Regions from separate parts of the Homo sapiens genome. Here region 2 is linked to region 1. Evidence: fine-mapped expression QTL. Tissue or cell type: whole blood. Region 1 holds a variant in brackets; the other region holds the start of a gene. All regions are shown on one strand. Distances are from middle to middle.

The links. PIP is the estimated chance that this variant, and not a neighbour inherited with it, causes the effect.
Region 2: REEP5 starts here. The variant in region 1 is the best candidate, but not a certain one, in a credible set for the expression of REEP5 in whole blood (TOPMed, PIP 0.62).

What each region holds. Positions count from the first base shown.
Region 1 is chr5:112,695,396-112,706,977 of GRCh38, reverse strand. No RefSeq gene overlaps it. Among named protein-coding and RNA genes, the nearest start is that of APC, 37 kb to the left of the region's middle. RefSeq lists an enhancer at 2,532-2,826 and a silencer at 2,532-2,826. The variant A/G (reference allele first, on the strand shown) is at 6,445.
Region 2 is chr5:112,917,044-112,927,783 of GRCh38, reverse strand. It overlaps REEP5 (receptor accessory protein 5), which reads left to right and starts at 5,557. Exons shown (of 5, transcript NM_005669.5): 1 at 5,557-5,711; 2 at 6,528-6,621. The coding sequence starts at 5,594. It overlaps LOC105379123 (a long non-coding RNA gene), which reads right to left and starts at 5,397. Exons shown (of 3, transcript XR_948675.3): 1 at 4,128-5,397. RefSeq lists an enhancer at 4,035-4,154 and silencers at 5,287-5,556, 5,917-6,366.

The DNA of each region.
Region 1 (11,582 bases):
TTGAACAATATCATTTGGGTTTCCGATATATACTAGATACTGTTTCAGGCTCTAGATTTACAGCAATAGGAAATACAATAAACTCACGGAACTTACATTCTAGTGTGAAAGAATAGACAATAAAAGACAGTCAACAAAAGAATGTTTGATGGTGATAAGGGATAGGAAGAGAGCAAACCACACAGAAAGATGATGGACAGTGAGAGGTGGTGATTAGTGATCTTTCTCCAGAGTTGACATTTAATCTGAAGCCTGACTGACCATGGGGGCCCAGGAGCCACTGGAAGATCTGGGGCAAAAGCTTTCAGACAGAGGGAACAACAGAACAGATCCTGAGGTGGTAGCAAGTCTGACATGAAAGAGGGACAGAAAGAATAGGTGACATGGACAGTGGGAAGGAGATGTGGTCGGGGTAGGCAGAGGCCAAATCAGGTAGGGCCTCCAGGTCATGGTAAGAAGTTGGATTTTATTCAAAATGGCCCTTGTATGTTGTTGACGCTGTCTCCCCTAGCCCCCACTACTCCTCTTCAAACACTTCTAGCTCCCGACTGCCTTTCTGGTTTGTATATGCCCCCTTGACTACCTAGAAGACACTTCTTCTTGTTCTTTAAATGTCTAACTTCTTATCTTTCAAGTTTCAGTTTAAATATCACCTCAGAAAGACCGTCCTTCCTAAGAATAATAAATTTTCCCCTGTCTTCCTTATTATTCTCAATCATTGCACCTTATCATTTCTTCCATGGTACTCAATATGTTTTTAAATGATCTATGTTTTGTTTCTTCACTGCCTCCACACTAAACAGTCGACTCCATAAGACAGGGAATACGTTTTGTTTACCAATGAATACACAGTGCATAGCACCATACCTGGCATGAGTGCTCTGTCACTCAGTGTTTGTTGATTTAATAAGTGTGGAAGTTTGTCAGCATCTAAGTAGTTGGTGGTGTACTATATTGGTTTCACTTGGTTTTTAAAATGAAATGCAAGTCACTTCTTATTTATATGTCTCCTCAGCTAGAATATAAGTAGGAAGGTTGGAGAGAGAGCAGATGGGATGGAGAAGGGTGGGTGATTGTGGGACAGTGGGCAGGGTTTATATTACATATGTTGTAGTATGGAGAGAAGGAAGGCTTCAAGTTAATGCAATCCCTATTATATGTGCTGTGAACTATGTTAGATATGAAATCCTCACCACAGCCCTGCTAGATAATTATCCTCACTTTTATACATGGGCAAATTCAGAGAGATTAAGTCCCTTGCCCAAGGTCTCACATTAAGGGATAGTGCTGACCATAAAGCCCATGCCCTTCCCATCTAGAGAAATTGGATTTGGAGACAGGCTTACTCAGAGATTTGATTCTGTGTCATTAGCAGGCTTTCATTAGAGATTTCATTCAGTTACCCCCACTTAAGGGTCCCAGTCGTATTACTATCCCTGTGTAGGACCTCAAAGGGCCTGCCTGGAAACTACTGTCGTTCTTTTCTTTTGAACTAGAGCAGAACTCATTTTAGCATTTTCCTTTTAATGTTTTTTAAATTCTGTATTTATTTTTATTAATAACATATATATTTTCATTAAAGGAAAAGAAGAAATACCAGCAAAATGGATACATAGTCTAAAGGCTAGCTGCATCTATTGGTTAGGCTTCTCAATGTGCCTAGATGGGACTTGCTGGCCCATCTAGGACCCAGCTGATACCTTAGACCCCCAAAGACCCTTCTGGAAAAGAGTTATAGGCTCACTGCAACAACCTCTTCTTCCATTGACTTATCAGAATTACACACCATCATTTCCCCTCTAAATGGGATAGCTGCCTCAGGATGGCTGGGGAGACCTGCCAGAAAGGATGGGGCTGGCATCTTATCTGTGGGGGCCATTTAGTCCTTATATGAGAGAAGAGATTCACTGAACCCATAACATATGCTCTTCAACCAAGCCCTATCAGTCCATATGCAAATCAAGTAGTAGGTAGGAATATATACTTGAAAACACTTCCCCGCCTTCTACCTCACTACAATGTAATCCTTGGAATAAATCCTAGAAACAAGACAAAGTCTTCAGTTTCTATGGTATTTACTTCTCTTATGGTTACCATCTGTTAGAGACTGAATTGTACTACTCCGAAAAAAGGTATGTTGAAGTTCTGACTTTCAGTACCAAACAATGTACCCTTATTTTGAAATAAAATTATTGCAGATATAATTAAGATAAAATGAGGTCATACTGCAATAGGGTAGGATAACCCACCATGACTACTGTCCCTTTAAGAAGATGACCGTGTGAAGACATAGACAGAACGTGAGGATGCCAGATGAGGACAAAGGCAGATTGGAGTTATGCAGCTACAAGCCAAGGAATGCCAAAGACTGCCAACAAACCATCAGAAGCTAGGAAGAGGCATGCATGGACTTTCCTACAGGTTTCAGAGGGAACATGGCCCTGTGGACACCTTGACTTTGGATTTATAACTTTCAGAACTCTGAGTCAATAAATGTCTGTTGTTTTAAGCCACCCAATCTGTGGTACTTTGTTATAACAGCTCTATGAAATTAATACACCATTTTATCTGGCAGGGCCTGAAATAGAGGAAAGAGATGTTGGCAGGCAGTGAGAAGGCTTGAGCTACCGCTCCAGTATGAGCAAGCCAGCTGCACAACCTCAAGCCAGTCGCTGAACAACAGTTTCCTCATCTGTACAAACAGAGATAATGACAGCCACCCTGCCTACTTCAAAGATCTGCAGTGGTAACTAACAAGTATTCCTCCAGTGATGCTGTGACCAAGGTCTGACAGATACTAAGAAACAATTATGTAAAGACAGGGTTCCTGCCACAGGGAATTTTACAGTCTGGCTGAGAAAACTAGACACTTTCCTATGATAAGATAAATAGTATGGGCAAAGTGCCAAGTGCGTGGTTTGGATCTTATTCACTATTGATGCTGAAAAAGGGAAGGATCCTGTGGACTGGGGTGGAGAGGGAGACTTCATGAAGGGCCTTAGCAGAAAAGGAATTTATTAGAAGGATATTTGACATCTACAGGATCTTCAGGAACAACACGCAACATTATGCCCGGAACTGGTCCCAAGAAGCCATCACTGTAGCCACTGCTGGATGCAAATACCAAAACTGAGACTGCCAGTACCACTTGACCCAGAGTGGATGATGCCTCTGCTGCTTCTGGAAGATAGATGCAGTTACTATCACTGCCACTACTCTCAACAGAATGGAGGGTCACTTCATATTCACAACATTAGCTTTCAACCTCAAGCCTAGAATGGGGGCAAATCATGGATATAACCTAGTAACACATTAACACTCTACCTACATGCTGTCTGATAGAAATATAATGCAAGCCACATACATAATTTTAAATTTTCTAGTAGCCACATAAGACAGTTTAAAAACAAAAACAAAAACAAAAAACCAGCCTCTAATCCAAGCAGTTTGGGAGGCTGAGATGGGAAGATTGCTTTAGACCAGGAATTTGAGACCAGCCTGGGTAATATAGTAAGACATTGTCTCTACAAAAAAATATTAGCTGGGCATGGTGGTGCATGCCTGTAGTCCTAGTTACTCAGGAACCTGAAGCCGGAGGATCACTTGAGCCCAGGAGTTCCAGGCTGCGGTGAGCTATGATTGTGACACTGCACTCCAGCCTGGGTGACGGGGGGGAGACCCTGACTCTAAAGCAAAACAAAAACCAGGTGAAACCAATTTTAATAATATATTTTATTTAACCCAATATATCCAAAATATTTCAACATGTGCCACTAGACATACGTCAAGTGCTCAGTAGCCACGTGTGGCCAGTGGCTACCATGTTTGACAGCACAGCGGTAATTGATAGGAAGGCCAGGAAAATGAGCATATGAACTTCTAATTTCGATAGTGAGAGGGAATTTCTGCTTCATGAGGAGGGCAATCTCCTAAACACAGTAAGAGAATTAAGACATAGTCTTACAAATGGAAAATAAAGTTGAAGGAAAACCAAACTGGATTGTAGAGAATGGAAAATGGTAAACTAAGGACATTTAATTTCATCATGTAGTGACTGAGAGCCACTGAAGGTTTGTGAAATGGGGAAGTATTTTGAAAATTTAATAAAAGTACCATGAAGGGGTAGGTGATAAAAAACACTTGAAGTTAGAATTTCTGGGCTTAGTTATGTTTTTTTTTTTTAATCTGTGCAGCTTTATACAAGTTGTCTCTCTGGATTTTTCTTCTCATCTTCAGACATGGTGCTTATAATATCTATCTCAGGCTTGTTGTGTTGTGAGGATTAAATGAAATGGTACATATGAAAATGACCAGCACCTGGTGCATTATTTAGGGTTCTCCAAAGAAACAGAACCACTAGAATATATATGAGATTTATTATAAAAATTGGCTCATGTGGTTATAGAAGCCAAGAAATCCCACAATCTGCCATCCATAAGCTGGAGAACCAGAAAAGCTAGTGGTGTAATTCAGTCTGAGTCTGAAGGCCTGATAATCAGGGTGCTGACAGTATGAATGCCGGTTTGAGTCTGAAAGCTCGAAAAAACAGGAGAGTTAACGTCCAAGGCAGGAGAAGATGCTCACCCACATTGGTGAGGGAGATCTTCTTTATTCAGTCTATGAATTCAAATGCTACTCTCTTTCTGAGACACCCTCACAGACACACCCAGACATAATATTTTATCACTTATTTGGGCGTCCCTTAGCCCAGTCAAGTTGACACATAAAATTAGCCGTCACACTTGGCAAGCACTCAATACATGATACTTAAATCTGAATGAATCTGAGTATCCAGTTAGAGGTCTAGATAGATAGTAAGGAGGTTGGATTATTTCCTAAATGTCAAGAGGAGCTCCAGGGTAAAAACCCAGAAAATATGTATTTTAGATATCTCAATTCTGTCTCAGCGTCGACAAGTTAAAATGTGTACTTGTTTTTTGCCTAGACCATGTCTTCCTTGAAGCCCTTACTGGTCATCCCTGGCCAGAGGTCATCTCTGCTTCCATGGCTTATTGTTCTCCTTTAGGTAGTATTACATTGCCATGTGTTGGCCTCATGTCTTGTCTTCTTTACTATAATAGATACATACATGAGGGCATAGGCCATATCTTATTCATATTTGTATTTATCTCCTACAATTTCTTGAATTGAAAGTGTCCAAACAAACAGAAGCTGGATGATGAGTACCATGAGTATTCATTATATTATTCTTACTACTTTTGTGTATGCTTGGAATTTTTCATAATAAAAAGTACTTTTAAAAAGACATCCAAGAAACTTCTGCTGCTAGATGGGGGGCTAAGTACCAGTGTTTACTTCCTTCTCCTCTGTATATTCCACTAAAATATCAGTAGCAGGACTTAATTTTTGATGAAACTAATGAATGTTAAGCTTCAAGGCTCTTCACTTGCGTGGGCCCTTTTCAAGGTCCTGGAAAATGCCTTAGCAATATGTTCATAAGTTTTTGTAAAATCTGCAAAAGTAGTATCTCTTAATCACAATTGGTTAAGGGCATTTCTCTTTCCACTTTGACTTACTGTCTGTCACAGGTCTGTTTTGTCAGGTGGTATTAGAGTAGCTGTAATAACTTTGGGTTCCAGCTAAGGGGAAGTTGAGTTTAAGAGACATTTTTAAAAATTTGGTCAGAGGATATTTATGTGATTCATAGTTATGTCTGTGTCTAGTATCTTATTGATAACTATCTTAGTGGAGTAATAACTTCCAGGAGTACTTCTACAGTCCAGTGCCTGACTCTGTCTGCATTCTAACACAATGGGGCAGGACCAGAGTTTGTGTTGTAACATGAACATGTTCTGTGGCACCTGAACCCGAAGTATGTATACAGCCAGAAGTTAGTCTATAGAAAATTCTTCCAAACTTTATAGCACATATGGAAAATGAACGTGTAGGTAACACGGAAAAAGAAAAGACATGATGGAAATTTTCCCAAATGAGATAACAATCTTAAGAAATCACAAGCCATTACTAATAACAAGTTGTCAAGCTGAAAAAAATCTAAACTATCAATAATAAAAATTTTGTGATTAACCATGTTAGAAGAAAGACAATTATATTTCTATTCAATCTATTAAATTATAATAAAACAAAATCACCACTTAAAGAGCATCTAGAAAAAAATTTAGGACAAAACTACAGAGGTATGTCAGGCAGTAAAATAATGCACTTGTGTTATTTTTCCAGGTTTTGTGATGCTTGTGGATTTTGTGTCAGCATTCTAGATTTATTTTTTCATTCTAAAGAAATATTTACTTTTTCACCTAAATTTATATTCAAACGTTGTATTTTTTTTTTCAAATTCAATGCCTTATCATGGGCCTCTGCAATTACAGTTAGAGACATCAACATCCCTCTCTCAGTAATTGATAGAACTACTAGGCAGAAAATCAGCAAATACATAGAAGACTTGAACAACAGAATTAATCA[A/G]TAGGATCTAACTGACATTAATACAACACTCAGTAGAATACACTTTTTTTTTTTAAAGCATCCATGACACACCACATCTTTGGCCAGAAAACAAAACTATGCAGAATATGTCCTCTGAGCATAATGAAATTTAATTAGTAATCAATGAGAGAAAGGCAATGGGAGAATCTCGATACACTTGAAAATTAAATGACACACTTCTTTTTTTTTTTTTTTGAGACGGAGTTTTGCTCTTGTCGCCCAGGCTGGAGTGCAGTGGCACGATCTTGGCTCACTGCAACCTCCGCCTCTCGGGTTCAAGCGATTCTCCTGCCTCAGCCTCTCGAGTAGCTGGGATTACAAGCGCCCACCACCACACCCGGCTGATTTTTGTATTTTCAGTAGTGACAAGGTTTCACCATGTTGGCCAGGCTTGTCTCGAACTCCTGACCTCAAGTGATCTGCCCACCTTGGCCTCCCAAAGTGCTGGGATTACAGGCGTAAGCCACTGTGCCTGGGCTAAATGACACAATTCTAAATAATACCTCAGCAAAGAGGAAGTCTCAAAGGAAAGTTTTAGAAAATATACAGAACTGAATGGAAATGTAAATACAACATATCAAAATTGGTGGAATGAAGCTAAGGTGGTGCTGAGAGGGAAATTCATAGCACTAAATGACTACATTCAAAAAAATAAAATGATTACCTTAGAAAAGATCCCAAATTAATCACCTAAGTTTCTACCTCAAGAAAAATGAAGAGCAAAATAAACTCAAAAAAAGCAAAAGGAAGGAAATAATAAAGATAAAAGCAGAAATCAATGAAATTGAAAAGAATAACAATAGGGAAATCAATAGAACATGAAGCTGGTTGATAAACCTCTAGCAAGCCTGACAAAATAAAAAGAGAGGGGGCACAAATTACCAATATCAGTCATGAAACAGGATATAATTATAATTCTTGCAGCTATTAAAAGAATAAAAGGGAATACCATGGACACATGTACACTTATAAATTAAACAACTTTAGAAGAAATGGACCAATTTTTGAAAACCGTAAATGACCAAAGCTCAAACAAGATGAAACAGAATAGTCCTATAACCATGAAATAAATTGAACTGCCACTAAAACGCTCTGGAAAAAGAAATCTCCAAACCCAGATGGTTTCACTGGAGAACTCTACCAAACATTCTGAGAAGAATAAGCTCTGATTTTAAACATTCTATCCTAGAGAATAGAAGAAGAAGGACTACTTCTCTATTCACTTTATGAGGCCAGTATTACTTTGATACCCAAACTAGACAAAAACAGTAGAATAAAAGGAAATTACAGACCAATATTTCTCATAAACTTAGACACAGAAATCCTCAACGAAACATTGTTTTTTCTTGGAATCCATGGGGAATTGGTTTCAAGCTCCTGAGAATACCAAATTCCACAGATACTTGTTTCTTATATAAAATGGCACAGTATTTGCATATAATCCAGGCATATCCTCTGTATATGTTAAATCACCTCTAGATGACTTTATAGACATGCTCTGCTTAACGACAGGAATACATTCTGAGAAATGCGTTTGGTGATTTTGTTATTGTGCAAACATCATAGCATGTACTTACACAAGCCTAGATGGTATAGCCTAGGACACACATAGGATATATGATCTAGCTTATTGCTCCTAGGCTACATACTTATACAACAGGTTACTGCACTGAATACCGTAGGTAATGGTAACACAATGGTAGGTGTGTGTATATTTAAACATAGAAAAGTTACAGCAAAAATATAGAATGATAATTTTAGGAAATCATCGTTGTATATGTGGTCTGTTATTGACTAAAATATTGTTATGCACTTCATGATTGTAATACCTAATACAGGATAGATGCTATGTAACTTGTTGTTATACTATATTGGTTTTTATTTTTATTATTTTCATTGTTATATTGTTATTTTTATTGTTCTTTTTCTAAATATTTGTGATCTGCAGTTGGTTGAATTTATGGATGCAGAACCCACAGATATGGAGGATTTTGAGTGTACTAGAAAATCAAACCCAATAATATATTTAAAAAAAATATGACATGGCAAGTAGGATTTCTCCCAGGTATGCATGGCTAGTTCAATATTCGAAAATCAATGTGATCTACATTATCTACATACAACAGGCTACAGAAGAAAATTCATGTGTAATCACATCATTTGATACAGAAAAAGCATTTGACAAAATGCAACACCCTTTCATGATAAAACCTGGGTCTGTTCCCTGCCCAATAACTGCATAAAAGGGAATAAATTTGTGACTATTGAGAATGAAGAATGTTCCATCAGCTGATGAGAGATTTGGCAAGTGTCTAGAAGACAAGAAATGATGGATGAACCAAGGTGGAAGACATGCTCCAATCCAGAACATAAACTGCCTTATGGAGAGGCCCACCTGACGTGGAATTGAGGGAGGCCTCTGCCCAAAAGCTAGTGAAGAACTGAGGTTCTTAGTCCAACAGTTCATGAGGAACTCCCTGCCATCAATCATGTGAGAGAGCTTGGAAGTGACTCTCCCAGTCAAGGCTGCAGATGATAGCACAGACTTGGCTGAAAGCTTTATGAGAGACCTTGAAGCACGGGTACCTAGGTAAACCATGCTCAAATTCCTGACCAATAGAAACTGTGAAAAAAAAATACTTCTTGTTATAAGCTGCTAAATCTTGGTATAATTTGGAAGGCAGACATGAGAAGGTATGAATTCCATTTCCAGCAGTAATTGAATTGGTCATAGAGCAAGTTTGAAAATCTTTATGACACCAATTATACATGTTTCTTCTTTTTTTGTTTCTCTTGTGCCTGTATCAACATTTCACTCATGATACACTAAGCTTCCCTTCTTTTAAGCTCCACCTATTTCTTAAAACTTTCCAATTAAAGTGGCTGAATGCAATAATCAGCCAGAGACTCTGTGCTTTTCTGTCTAATGACAAAAAAAAAAAAAAAAGGAAAACTCTCCATCTGGGTAGAAATTGATAATTAGCCATATCCAATTCCTGGACATCTGGCTTTTAAATGAAACTGAGCATAGCAATGTCTCCTCCCTCGGCATTATTTTACTGAAAGTGCTACGTATTCTTCTAGTACTTAAAGGGACAGCACCAATGTAACTTGAATATCAAGTTACTAAAGATTTGTCTCAATTGTTTTTCATACTACCAAAATCTTAGCTGTTTATCATAGAAAATTTGGAAACTCCAGAAAATCTCAAGAAGAAAGAAAAAAATCTCACCATTCAAGATAAGAATTGTCACCATTTTGGTGGTGCTCTTTCCAGGTTTACTTTAAAATGAAAGGCATTTCAGAATAACAATATTGCCCTCTACAATAAATCCTCATTTTATAAAAGCATATTTTAATGAATAAAATTTAACAAAGAAAACCAAATCATTTATTTCACTGAAATTCACATCAATATCTTGACACAGTTTATGGTTTGGCTGATGACATTGATAATCCGCCCTAACAACCAGTCTGAGTAGCTCAGGGGAACATCCCACAAGACCAAAGCAGCCCCAGCAGCACGTTGAGAGCGGTGGGGCTCAAGAGAAACAACATATGTTTGCATCCGCTCTCCCTTCATGCTGCTACAGCTCCCCCGTCATTTGGGGTTGGGGAGGGATCCAGAGACTTGCACCAAGATCTTTAGTAGACTGGAACCAGCTTAAAGAACTGAGAGAAAGTCAGTTTAGAGATTTTATGAGTTGGCAATTACACACAGCTATTATTAAAAATTAAATAATATAAAATTGCAATTCAATAAATTATATTGAAAACAAAGGTAATAAGCACTCAAAACTCATCACTTTCAAATCATTTTCTCACATTTAACCATTTCCTATGCTCCTGATGCCATTCCATCTCTTGTATCTAAATGGTGGAAAAACTGTATAATGTTCTAGGGCACATCTACTCAAAACACTAAGTTCAATGATGTCACATTGGTAGTTTGAAATTGGCCAGAGCGAGAGCATTTACACCAGGGAACTCAAGAAATGCTCAAAATCTGGGCTTGACTTATTGTTTTGTTGATAGTCTAGTGATGGAGAAAATGTTAATGCTGTACATTAAAGTTAAAAGCGTGTCACGTCTATTGCTCTTACTTTGCGAATAGCACACAGATTGAGGAAATATTATTCCGGTATTTAAAAACCATTATCAAATTCTTCCAAGTCGCTCACATTATAGACAAATAAATAAAGTTCTAACATATATCTTTGTTGTTTCATTTTCATCTTACTCATTAATGACTAAGAAAATATCAGCCAGGATTCTTGTCAAAACTACACTTGTTTGTTATTTATAATGATAGGTTGGCTACAGATACAAAAGTTCAGCAAAAATCAATGAAACAATCATGGGCAAAAATCAGGAGAATTATTGGCTATATGAAAGTCACATTAAAGAACATTTTCTGTTTTGCTAATATTTATACACTATGTGCTATATACTCTTTTTTCTCTATTTTTTCTTTTTGTTTGTTTTTTTTTTTTTGAGATGGAATCTTGCTCTGTTGCCCAGGCTGGAGTGCAATGGCATGATCTCGGGTCATTGCAACCTCTGCCTGCGGGTGCAAGCAATTCTCCTGTCTCAGCCTCCTGAGTAGCTGGGATTACAGGCGTGTGCCACCATGCCCAGTTAATTTTTGTATTTTTTTTTTTTTATTAGAGATGGGGTTTTGCCATGTTGCCTTGGCTGGTCTTGAACTCCTGACTTCAAGTGATCTACCTGCCTCAGCCTCTCAAATTGCTGGGAATTATAGGCGTGAGCCACTGCACCCAGCCTGTGCTATATACTCTTCATATCAGTAAAATTTAAAAGAAACTTTAGTTTGTGTGTGTGTGTGTTTGTGTGTGTGTGTGTTTGTGTGTGTGTGTGGGTGTTTCAGAGAGCTGGTTACTAATCATTTACCAGTGTACTACTGATTAGAAGCAAATGCTTCCTTTTGCCCTACTCGACTTAGCCCCCAGCTAATCCCTTTCAGCAAGGTTTCAGCTGATGAATAAATAGGAAAAGTAAGTGAAAGAAAAATAAGGGCTGCAGGAAATAGAAGAGGGAGGAAGAATATAAAAGAAAGACAGGAAGGAAAAGAAAGATAAATTTCTCCCTGACTTGCC
Region 2 (10,740 bases), 220 kb before region 1:
ATATGAGTAAGTGAATAGTTTGAGACCTTAGGCAGGGTTCTGGGTTCTTATTTTCTGCATCTCTTTCCTCTGCTATGAAAGAATCTAAGGTTTACAGTGCTGATGGGATAAACTAGGATCCCATACTCCCCGAATCTGATTGTAATTTACTAAAGTCAAGAATAATGTAATATTTCTCTATCTCAATTTTAGAGGCTGGGCATGATGGCTCACTCCTGTAATCCCAGCACCTTGGCAGCCTGAGGTGGGAGGATTGCTTGAGCTCAGGAGTTCAAGATCAGCCTGAGCAACATGGTGAAATGCCATCTCTACAAAAAATACAAAAATTAGCCAGGCTTGGAGGCATGTGCGTGTAGTCCCAGCTACTTGGGAGGCTGAGGTGAGAGGATGGCTTGAGCCTAGGAGGCAAAGGTTGCAGTGAGCTGAGATTACACCACTGCACTCCCGTCTCGGTGACAGAGCCAGACCTTGTCTCAAAAAAAAAAAAAAAAAAAAAAAAAAAATTACACCTAGCTGTGTTTTTTTTCTTTCTTAAATTATTTAAACACTTATTTTGCATCAAGTACTCTTCTAAAAACATTACAAATAGTAACTCACCTAACCATGATGAGAACTCTGTGAAATAGGTACTATTTTTATCCTTGTTTTACAGATGAGAGACCAGAAGCACAGAGAGCTTATGCAACTTGCCCAAAGTCACATAGCTAAATGGTAGAGCTGGGATTTAGCTCATACAGACTGAATCCAGAGATAGAACTCCACACTATGCCTCACTATACTGCTTTGCCTCACCATTGGTTGAATGCTTGAAGAAAGAAGAAATTTGGAATCTATGTCAAGAGAAAATTGAAAAGAGCAATATTTACAGAAAGAAAGCCAAGGGCTGGGCACAGTGGCTCACATCTATAATCCCAGCACTTTGTGGGGTCAAGGTGGGAGGATTGCTTGAGCCCAAGAGGTCAGGGCTCCAGTGAGCCATGATGGTGCCGCTGCACTCCAGCCAGGACAACAGAGTAAGATCCTGTCTTGAAAAATAAAAAAATTAAAAAAAAAGGAAGAAAGGAAGAAATGCAAATGAACAATATGTTTCTAGATATTCCATGCATAGTTAATGTAGTACAAATGTTGCCACTGCATGAAATGTAGTGACAAAAACCTAGGTTGATTTGGATACCTAACTTAAAAGGATTTTGCTCCTTTGCTAAAATAAATAAATAATAAATAAAACAATCAAATTGTGAGGCTGGGTGTAGCGGCTCATGCCTGTAATCCTAGCACTTTGGGAGGCTGAGATGGGCGGATCACTTGAGCTCACAAGTTTGAGGCCAGCCTGGGCAACATGGCAAAACTCCATCTCTACAAAAAAGTACAAGAATTAGCTGGGTGTGGTGGTGCACACCTGTAGTCCCAGCTACTTGGAAGGCTGAGGTGGGAGGATGGCGTAAGCCCAGGAGGTGGAGGTCAGTGAGCCAACATTGTGCACTGCACTTCAGCCTGGGTGATACAGTCAAACCTTGTCTAAAAAAAAAAAAAAAAAAAAAAAAAAATCAGGACCGGCACTGTGGCCACCTGTAATCCCAGCACTTTGGGAGGCTGAGGCAGGCAGATCACTTGAGGTCAGGAGTTCAAGACCAGCCTGGCCAACATGGTGAAACCCCATCTCTACAAAAAAATACAAAAATTAGCCAGGCGTGGTGGTGTGCACCTGTAGTCCCAGTTACTCAGGAGGCTGATGCACGAGAATCATTTGAACCTGGGAGGCTGAGGTTGCGGTGAGCCAAGATCATGCCACTGGACTCCAGTCTGGGTGACAGAGGCAGACTCCATCTCAAAAAAAAAAAAAAAATCAAATTATGAATCACTTTAAGTATTCAAAAACAACCCCAACTTAATATACATACTGTACTCAGTAGGAAATTATACAAACTCACAACTGGTTTGAAGTTTACAGTTCAGTTATTCTGCTAAGCAGCTGTACTAGTTTCCTAGGGCTGCTGTAACAGTCTCACAAACTGGGTAGCTTAAATAATAGAAATTGAGGCCAGGTGCAGTGGCTCATGCCTGCAGTCCCAGCACTTTGGGAGGCCAAGATGGGGAGATCACTTGAGGTCAGGAGTTTGAGACCAGTTTGGCCAGTGTGGTGAAACCCCATCTCTACAAAAAAAAAAAAAATTAGCTTGGCATGGTGGCACACACCTGTAGCCCCAGCTACTTGGGAGGCTGAGGTGGAAGAATTGCCTGAACCTGGGAGGTGGAGGTTGCAGTGAGTGGAGATTGTGTCACTGCAGTCCAGCCTGGGTGACCCAGTGAGACCCTGTCTCTAAATAAATAAATAAAACAGAAATTTATTATCTCACAGCTCTGGAGGCTGGAAGTCCAAGATCAAGGTCTCAGCAGGATTGGTTCCTTGTGAGGGTTGTGAGGGAATGATCTGTTCCAGGACTTTCTTCTTGGCTTGTAGATGGCCATCTTCTCCCTGTGTTTCTTCACAGTCTTCCCTTTATATGCATCTGTCTCCGTCCAAATTTCACCCCCCCTTTTTTTTTTGAGACAGAGTCTCGCTCTGTTGCCCAGGCCGGAGTGCATTGGCTTGATCTCGGCTCACTGCAAGCTCTGCCTTCTGGGTTCACACCATTCTCCTGCCTCAGCCTCTTGAGTATCTGGGACAACAGGTGCACGCCACCACGCCCGGCTAATTTTTTGTATTTTTAGTAGAAATGGGGTTTCACCGTGTTAGCAAGGATAGTCTCGATCTCCTGACCTCGTAATCCACCTGCCTCGGCCTCCAAAGTGCTAGGATTACAGGTGTGAGCCACCGCGCCTGGCCAAATTTCCCATTTTATAAGGACAACAGTCACACTGGATTGAGGTCCACCCTAAGGAGTTCATTTGAATTTGACTACCTCTTTGAAGACCCTATTACCAAATAAGATCACACTCTGAGGTACTGTAGGTTAGGATTCCAACATGTCTTCTTTAGGGAGGTAGAATACAATTCAACCCATAATAGCAATGTAATATAGGGGTAAGAGCCTGATTCTGAATTCTAGCTCTGCCACTTATTGTGATATGGGAACTCACTATGTCTCATTTTTTTTTTCCTTAAATGAGGATGAAACAGGTAGCATCTTCCTCATGCAGCTGTGAGGATTAAATGAACTAGTCCACGTAACACTTGGAATACTGGGTGGTACAACACATGTTAGATATTCATTCATTCATTAATTCAACAAATAGTTATTGAACAACTACTAAGTGCCAGGCACTGTTCAATGTGCTTAAAATATTGAAGCAAATAAAATAAGCAAAAATGTCTACCCTCACGGAGCTCATAATCTAGTGAGGAAAGAAAGATAATTTAAAAATAGAACATGGTCTGGCATGGTGGTGGCTCATACCTGTAATCCCAGAACTTTGGGAGGCCAAGGTGGGCAGATCACAGAGTTCAAGACTGGCCTGGGTAACATAGTGAAACCCCATCTATACTAAAAACAGAAAAAATTAGCCGGACATGGTGGCACACGGCTATGGTCCCAGCTACTTGGGAGGCTGAGGTGGGAGGATGGCTTGAGCACAGCAGGAGGTCGAGGCTGCGGTGAGCTGTGACCACGCCTCTGTACTCCAGCCTGCGTGACAGAGTGAGACAGTCTCAAAAAAAAAAAAAAAAAAGTAGAACATAATGCCAGACAGTAATAAATTCTATGGAGAAAAATCAAGCTAGAGACCACTGGGGGTTGCAATTTGAGATTAGGGGTACCATTTGAACAAATATCTGAATAATGGAAGGGGACAGTTAAATGGTTAACTGGGGAAAGATACTTTCAGATAGAGGAGGGTTTCTGGACTGTCACATTATTGACATTTGGGGCTGGATAATTCTTTGTTGTGGGGGCTGTCCTGTGTGTTACAGGATGTTTAGCAGCACCCCTAGTCTCTAACCACTAGATGCTAGTTGCACTTGCCACCTCCTGCTCTCCTTGTGTGACAATCTGTTTCACAACGAAAGTATCTCTAGACATTGCTACTCCTCCCCCCAGGAGGAAGAAGGGGAGAGGAAGTGCTCCTGGTTGAGAACCACTGAAATAGAAGAAAAGTGAACGAACGCCCAGAGGCAGGAATGGGCTTACCTTGTCTGAGGCACAGCAAGGAGGGAGGCAGTAAGGGAAGACATCAGAAAGGGGAGGGATGAACCATGTCACCTGTGACCCTGATGCCCTCCTTCAGGCAGATAGGAAGTTGCTGGAGGGTTGAGAACAAAAACATAGCACAACTTGACGCACATTTTAAAACAGATTCTACTGTCTGCCACATTGAGAATTAACTGTAGGTGAAAAGACAGAAGTAGACAGCAGGTTGTTTCACTTGTTCACTGATTTGGCTGGGTGGTGGTAGGAACAGCTGAGAAAGCTGAGCTAAGAAGCTCTGAGGAAGAAAGGAGGAAGGAGAATTAGCATAAAAGGAAAAAGCTAGGCGTGGGCAAGATAACTTTTTGCAGAAGTGGAAGGCAGTAGGGTAATTAAGTAGATTTGAAAGCACAGAGGGGTTGTGTAGGACCAAGACAGAATGTTCGGGGCCAGTTGTGGGCAGGGCATTGAATGCTCTGCCAAGGAATGGGAGCTCTAGTCTGTTAGGATAATAATACGGAGCTTCGGACAAAAATTCTGCAGCAGTGTGCAGAATAGGAGTCAACAAGAGTAATTTTAGGAGTGTCTGGAAGTCATATGGGTGAGATAAGAGGAGCCTAGGTTTAGGTGGAGGAAGAGCATGGCCAACTCATTCTGAAGGAAGCAAAAATGAGCTCCTGCCCTAAGGCTTGGACCTTAGAATCTCCGTCTTCTTCAGAGTATTTTGACTGTAGGAAGTGCAGAGTATATTGGCTCCACAGAGAGAATTTGGACACTTGCCACAGTATCAGACACCAAGACAACGCAAGCCCACCATGAAAAGATTTAATGCAGTTTTTGCTTGGAAAAGGTGTACCCCAGGGAGGATGTGTTAGATTTCTTCAAGGGTCTTTACAAGGCAACGATTGTCTGTAGGTGAGAAAAACTGCCAAGTTAAGGCAAAGAGGGAGAAAGCAGGACTGCTTCCAAAGAGTTCTTTCACGATGCTCAAACATTTCAATTTTTTAGGTCAAAAATGCCTTAGGTTTAGCACAGCAATGTAGGTGCCAAACTCATCGCAGTGAATTGCAGGCGGGAGCAACAAGGACGCCTGCCTCCTTTCTGCCTGCTTTTTGCAATAGTCCGATTTGAGAAGGGGACCCACGAGAGACACAAAATGCACGCCCCCACGCCACATCCTTTTTACCCCGCAATGGGTTAAGACTGTCAACAGGCAGGCCACCTCGCAGCGTCCGCGGAGTTGCAGGCCCGCCCCCGCCAGGGTGTGGCGCTGTCCCCCTGGCGCTGGGCGGGGGAGGAGGGGCGCGCGGCGGCCGAGGAGGGGCGCGCGGCGGCCGGGCGGGGCGAGCGGAGGCGAGTGGAGGACGCGTAGACGCGCCGCGGTCCCCGCCTGCCGCTGCTCCGCCGCAGTCGCCGCTCCAGTCTATCCGGCACTAGGAACAGCCCCGAGCGGCGAGACGGTCCCCGCCATGTCTGCGGCCATGAGGGAGAGGTTCGACCGGTTCCTGCACGAGAAGAACTGCATGACTGACCTTCTGGCCAAGCTCGAGGCCAAAACCGGCGTGAACAGGAGCTTCATCGCTCTTGGTGGGTGGCCGGGGGTCGCCGCCGCTGGTAGGGCCACGGGAGCCGCCGCTGCCCCAGCTGCTGGGGAAGGAAGCAGGGAGAGGACTCGGGAAAGGTGGAGTCGGAGACAGACGGGACAAGCAGCATATTCAGGGATCAGGCTGGCCTCCCGGAAAGCGTGGGCATCGGAGGACCCCGCGGGGGCTGCCCAGGCTGAGGGTCGCGGGGCTGGAGGGCAGCTGCGGCGCCGGGCGCTGGCAGCTGGAAGGGCCAGCGCTGACGTATGTCTGCCCCGCGGCCCGGCGCCCTATTCCTGCTGTCCTGCGCGGTGGGCGCGGACGGCGGGGCCCCTGCGGGCGGGCGCGTTGACGGAGGTACCCGGTCCTACCCGACCCTCCGTGGAGCTCCGCCCGGAGAGGGCGCCTCTCGGGTGGGCGGGGGCTGCTACTGCAGCGTGTGCGGGAGTCCGGGCCTCTCGGGACGCTCCCCGCTGAGCGCAGCTTCCCAGGCTGGAGCGCTGCCCAGCAGGCCCTGCGAGAGGGCGGAAGCGGGTGCCTGGGACCGTCCCGGGCGCCGGGGGTTGCTGCGCAAAGCGCCGGGGCCCCCTGCGGGAGGTAGGAGAGGCACAATGGTGGGGCTGCCTGGTATCCCCAGACTTCAAGGCATAGCCCAGCGGACGCGCAGGCCCAGCTTTCGTGTGGTTTGTTTTTCTCGCTCCTTTAATCGAGTCGAGAGGAAAACTCCTACAACAGGCCCAGCCTCGCGGTGTGGGCGGCGGCTGTCCCGCGTGAACGGCTCTCATGCTGCCCGACCCACTTCTCTCCTTGTGGTCCCCAGGTGTCATCGGACTGGTGGCCTTGTACCTGGTGTTCGGTTATGGAGCCTCTCTCCTCTGCAACCTGATAGGATTTGGCTACCCAGCCTACATCTCGTAAGTGACACACCCTGCAGCCGTCCCCTTCCCTTCCTCCATTCCTCCCCGCAGGGCTGCTGCAGTAGACTGCACATCCGCAATTCCCGGGAGAAAAGTGAAAGCTCGGCGGGGAGGGATGAGGTTGGACATAAGGGGTGGGGATAGTATTCACCATTTTGGAACCTTAACTTAATCCCTATCTCTTGACGATTAGCCCAGAGGTATTTTCATTAGATTATCCTGGTGACCAGTGTCCCCTCTCTTTGGCACACTAACAGGAAAGCGCTACCACTCTGTCGTCCTCCCTTTACTGGTGGGAGGATCTCAGAAGGTACAGGGAGCTGAGCACTTCTGTCTAGTAATTATTTTAATGAGTATTTCACCATATATTTATGCACCTAGAGAGTAAAACCCTATCAATTAGGTCTTCCTTAATTCATAATTACGTTAATTGAGACAGTAGGGAGAATTTTCTCATTTTCTTTTATTTTGAAAAAGCCACATGTTACAGACAAACTTGGGAAATGCTTACCCTAGTGTAAAAACAAAAACCTTTAAAAATGCTCCATGATATAGCTCCTTGGTTATATAAGTGAGTCATTTATATAATTGAGCTACTTAAAAAATGAATTTTTACGATTAGGATCTGAATTTATTACCAAAGTTGTTTTTATTCTACAATGTGTTTATTTTTTTTAATTCTACGATTTTATTTTTCCATTCGTTCAAGTAGGAATTATTCCTCTCCAGAAATGAATTTTGTTTTGCTCTACAGTTCTTCCTAAGAAAGCCAGTGGTTTTTACCTTCATTCAGTTGGTCTCTGCTACTTTCTTCAACCATAGGGATAAAAATAAAGGAAGAAAAAATTTTCACCTAGGAGGCTAAGACACAGATAACACATTATTACAGCTTGTATCTGTCACTAGTTAGGCTAGAATTTAGTCTATGACTATAAGGGAAGAAACATGTTTTAGAAGTTAGTTCTGATTTGAGCAATTAAATTGCAGTTACCTAGTAGTTGTTACTGTGTTAGTCCGGTACAGACACTTAGTCATACTCCAGAAAGTCTAGCTACATATAGCCCTGAGGCCTACCCCGGGCTCTGCTTTATGGAGGAGACTCAAGGAAAAACGGGATTGTGTGCACAGAATAAAGCATACAGACCCCCGTGAGCAAATATTCAGGCGGTCGGTGTTACATTAGTCTAATCAAGTCTGTTCATTGCATAACCAATATGATTGTATAATTGTCCAAAAGAAAGAAAAAGTATTTGAAAATGGTGGTCTTTAGTAGCATCAAAATCCATGTTGCTTAAAGTGTGACCTGTGAACACTGTCTTAGTCTGCTTGGGCTGCTATAACAAAATACCTTAGACTGGATAATTTATAAACAATAGAAATTTATTGCTCACAGTTCTGGAGGCTGGGAAATCCAGGACCAAGGCACCAGCAGATTTGGTGTCCGGTGAGGGCTTGCTCCCTGCTTCAAAGATGGCATCTTCTCACTGCTTCCTCACATGGTAGAAGGGTCAACTGGCTCCCTCAAGCCTCTTTTATAAGGACACGAATCCCATGCATGAGGGCAGAGCTCTCATGCCTGTTTCTTTTCTTTTGAGACAGAGTCTCGCTCTATATTGCCCAGGCTGGAGTGCAGTGTCGTAATCTCAGTTCACTGCAACCGCCATCCCTGGCCGCCCCCACCCCCGCCAAATTCAAGCAATTCTCCTGCCTCAGCCTCCCTAGTAGCTGGGATTACAGGCGTGTGCCACCACGCCTGAGTAATTTTAGTATTTTTAGTAGAGATGCGGTTTTGCCATGTTAGCCAGGCTGATCTTGAACTCCTGACCTCAGGTGATCCACCTGTCTCAGCCTCCCAAAGTACTGGGATTACAGGCGTGAGCTACCACACCTGGCCAAGCCCTCATGTCTTAATTGCCTCCTAAAGGCACCACTATTTAATACTAATACATTGGGTATTAGGTCCCAACATATGGATGTTGGGGGAACACAACATTCAGACCATAGCAGTCACCTTCATTTTAACTATTCTCCATACCTCTTGTAACTCTTATGCTCCCTAGCCAGAGTTATTTTTTAAAATACAGGTTCATCTATTTAGCAAAAATCAAATGCCAGTCACATGTGTGGCACTGTGGTAGCACTTTAGATATGGCAAGAAATAAGGTAGTCATACTCTCTGTCCTTGTTGAATGAGCAGTCTACCCAGGCAAGAAATAGGCAAAGTAGTGACCGTGTGGTAAGCCCTCTAAAGTAAATAAACAGTTCTGGTAGAGAAGACCTGAGGAATGAGAAGGGGCCAGCCAAGAGCAGAGCCAGGGAGAGGGAGAAGAGTGTGTCAGGCCCTGAGGCAGCACACAGCTTAGCTCTGTGTGAGCAAAGAGTGGTGGGGGAGGCACCAGAGAGGTGCAGGTGCCAGCAGGTAGGGTCAGTGGTAGAAGTGTGCATTTCATTCCAGATGGTGGTAGGGAGTTTGCATTTTCTGATTGCCTTGGATGGGTTTTAAATAGGGGGTGACATGATACGATTTATATTTTAAGGTCACTTTGGCTGCTGTGACCTCTGTAAGGAGTTCGCGATCTTGCCAAACTATTGCCAGTAATTTACTTCCTTCCTTTCTCACCTTTCAGCCTTTCTCTTGCTGTTTCCTCTCCTTGGGCCATCACAAGAAGGGGAGTAGTGTCAGTATTGGGTCAAGAGACTGCAGGATGCAAAGATGAAATTGGGAAAAGCTCACTTGGCTTCCTAGCTTTTCTCCCTTTGGACTCCCTTTGGAAGTCTGTGAGTGAAGCTCAGGTGCACCTGGCTCCTGGTCAGGGTCTGCTGCACGTTGGAGCATGTAGATGGTTGAAGACTTGCCCAGTGCTCACTGGGGAGCAACCAGTACCTTATTGTATACCCCTCTTCCTACTGGTTGTTCTTTCCGTGTGCATAATTTCCCTTTGAGCTCTTTGAGAACAGGGTCTTTCATCTCTGACTTCTAGTTTCTAGAATTTTTGGCCATCTTATATAGGCAATTCGGAATCTAATTCCAGCCTTCCTTTCATCAAGAACTGTTGACATAATTACCTTAATCTCCTTACTTCCCTCTTTTACTGATAACAGGAGGCAGACTACTGGAAATGTTTATTATAAAGATAGACCTCCCCCCATTGCTAAGATATAATTTAGATACTTATAAATTGTACACTTTTAAAGTATGCAGTTCAGTGGCTAGTATGTTCAGAGTTGTGTAACCATCACCACTGTCTAATTCCAAAACATTTTTATCACCCCAAAGGGAAACCATCACCAATCACTCCCTATTCCTCCTACCCAGCCCCTGGAAACCACTAATCTGCATTCTGTTTCTATGAGTTTGCCTATTCTGAGCATTTCATGTAGACGGAATCATACAATATATGGCCTTTAATGTCTGGTGCAGCCCTGCTTCTAATGGGATTGCACAAATAAGAGTCCTCTGGAGGGTGTATGCTGTGCTGCACCCTCATATGTGAGTAAGTCCTCCTGGTGCAGTCCCTCCAGGGTGGGCGCTAGTGAGCCAGGGCCCTAGTCCTGTACTTGCTCCTTTGTACAAATGGAATTGTGAGGCAAACTCAGACTTTATCTTCTATTTAAGGAAAGGGGAAGGTTTGCTTTCTGTCCTACCCAGTAACTTTTTTGCTTAAAATTCTATAAAAATGTCTATTACTTTTCCTCTTTTTATTTCATATTTTCCTTAAGACTTGGGCTGCCACCTTCCTGGGACTATCAGAGTTGGGCCTTAAAGATCAAACAGGTAGTCCAGTTCCTTTAGTTTTAAAATGACAATTCAGGGACAGAGAAAGGTGGAGTGTGTTTCCCAAGGTCACACAGAGGCCAGGCTTGGTCTGGAACTACACAGGAATGTAAAGCACATTTAGGCATATTTTAGTGCCAATGTTAGAAAGATTAAATATGTTTAGGGGGCGGGGCATGATGGCCCACATCTGTAATCTCAGCACTTTGGGGTGCTGAGGCAGAGGGATTGCTTGAGGCCAGGAGTTCAAGACGAGAGTCCAGCACTATATATTTAATCTTTAACAACACTTTTGAAATCTCATACCCAGTTCAGTAATGTGTCATTTTAGTTTCTGTGTG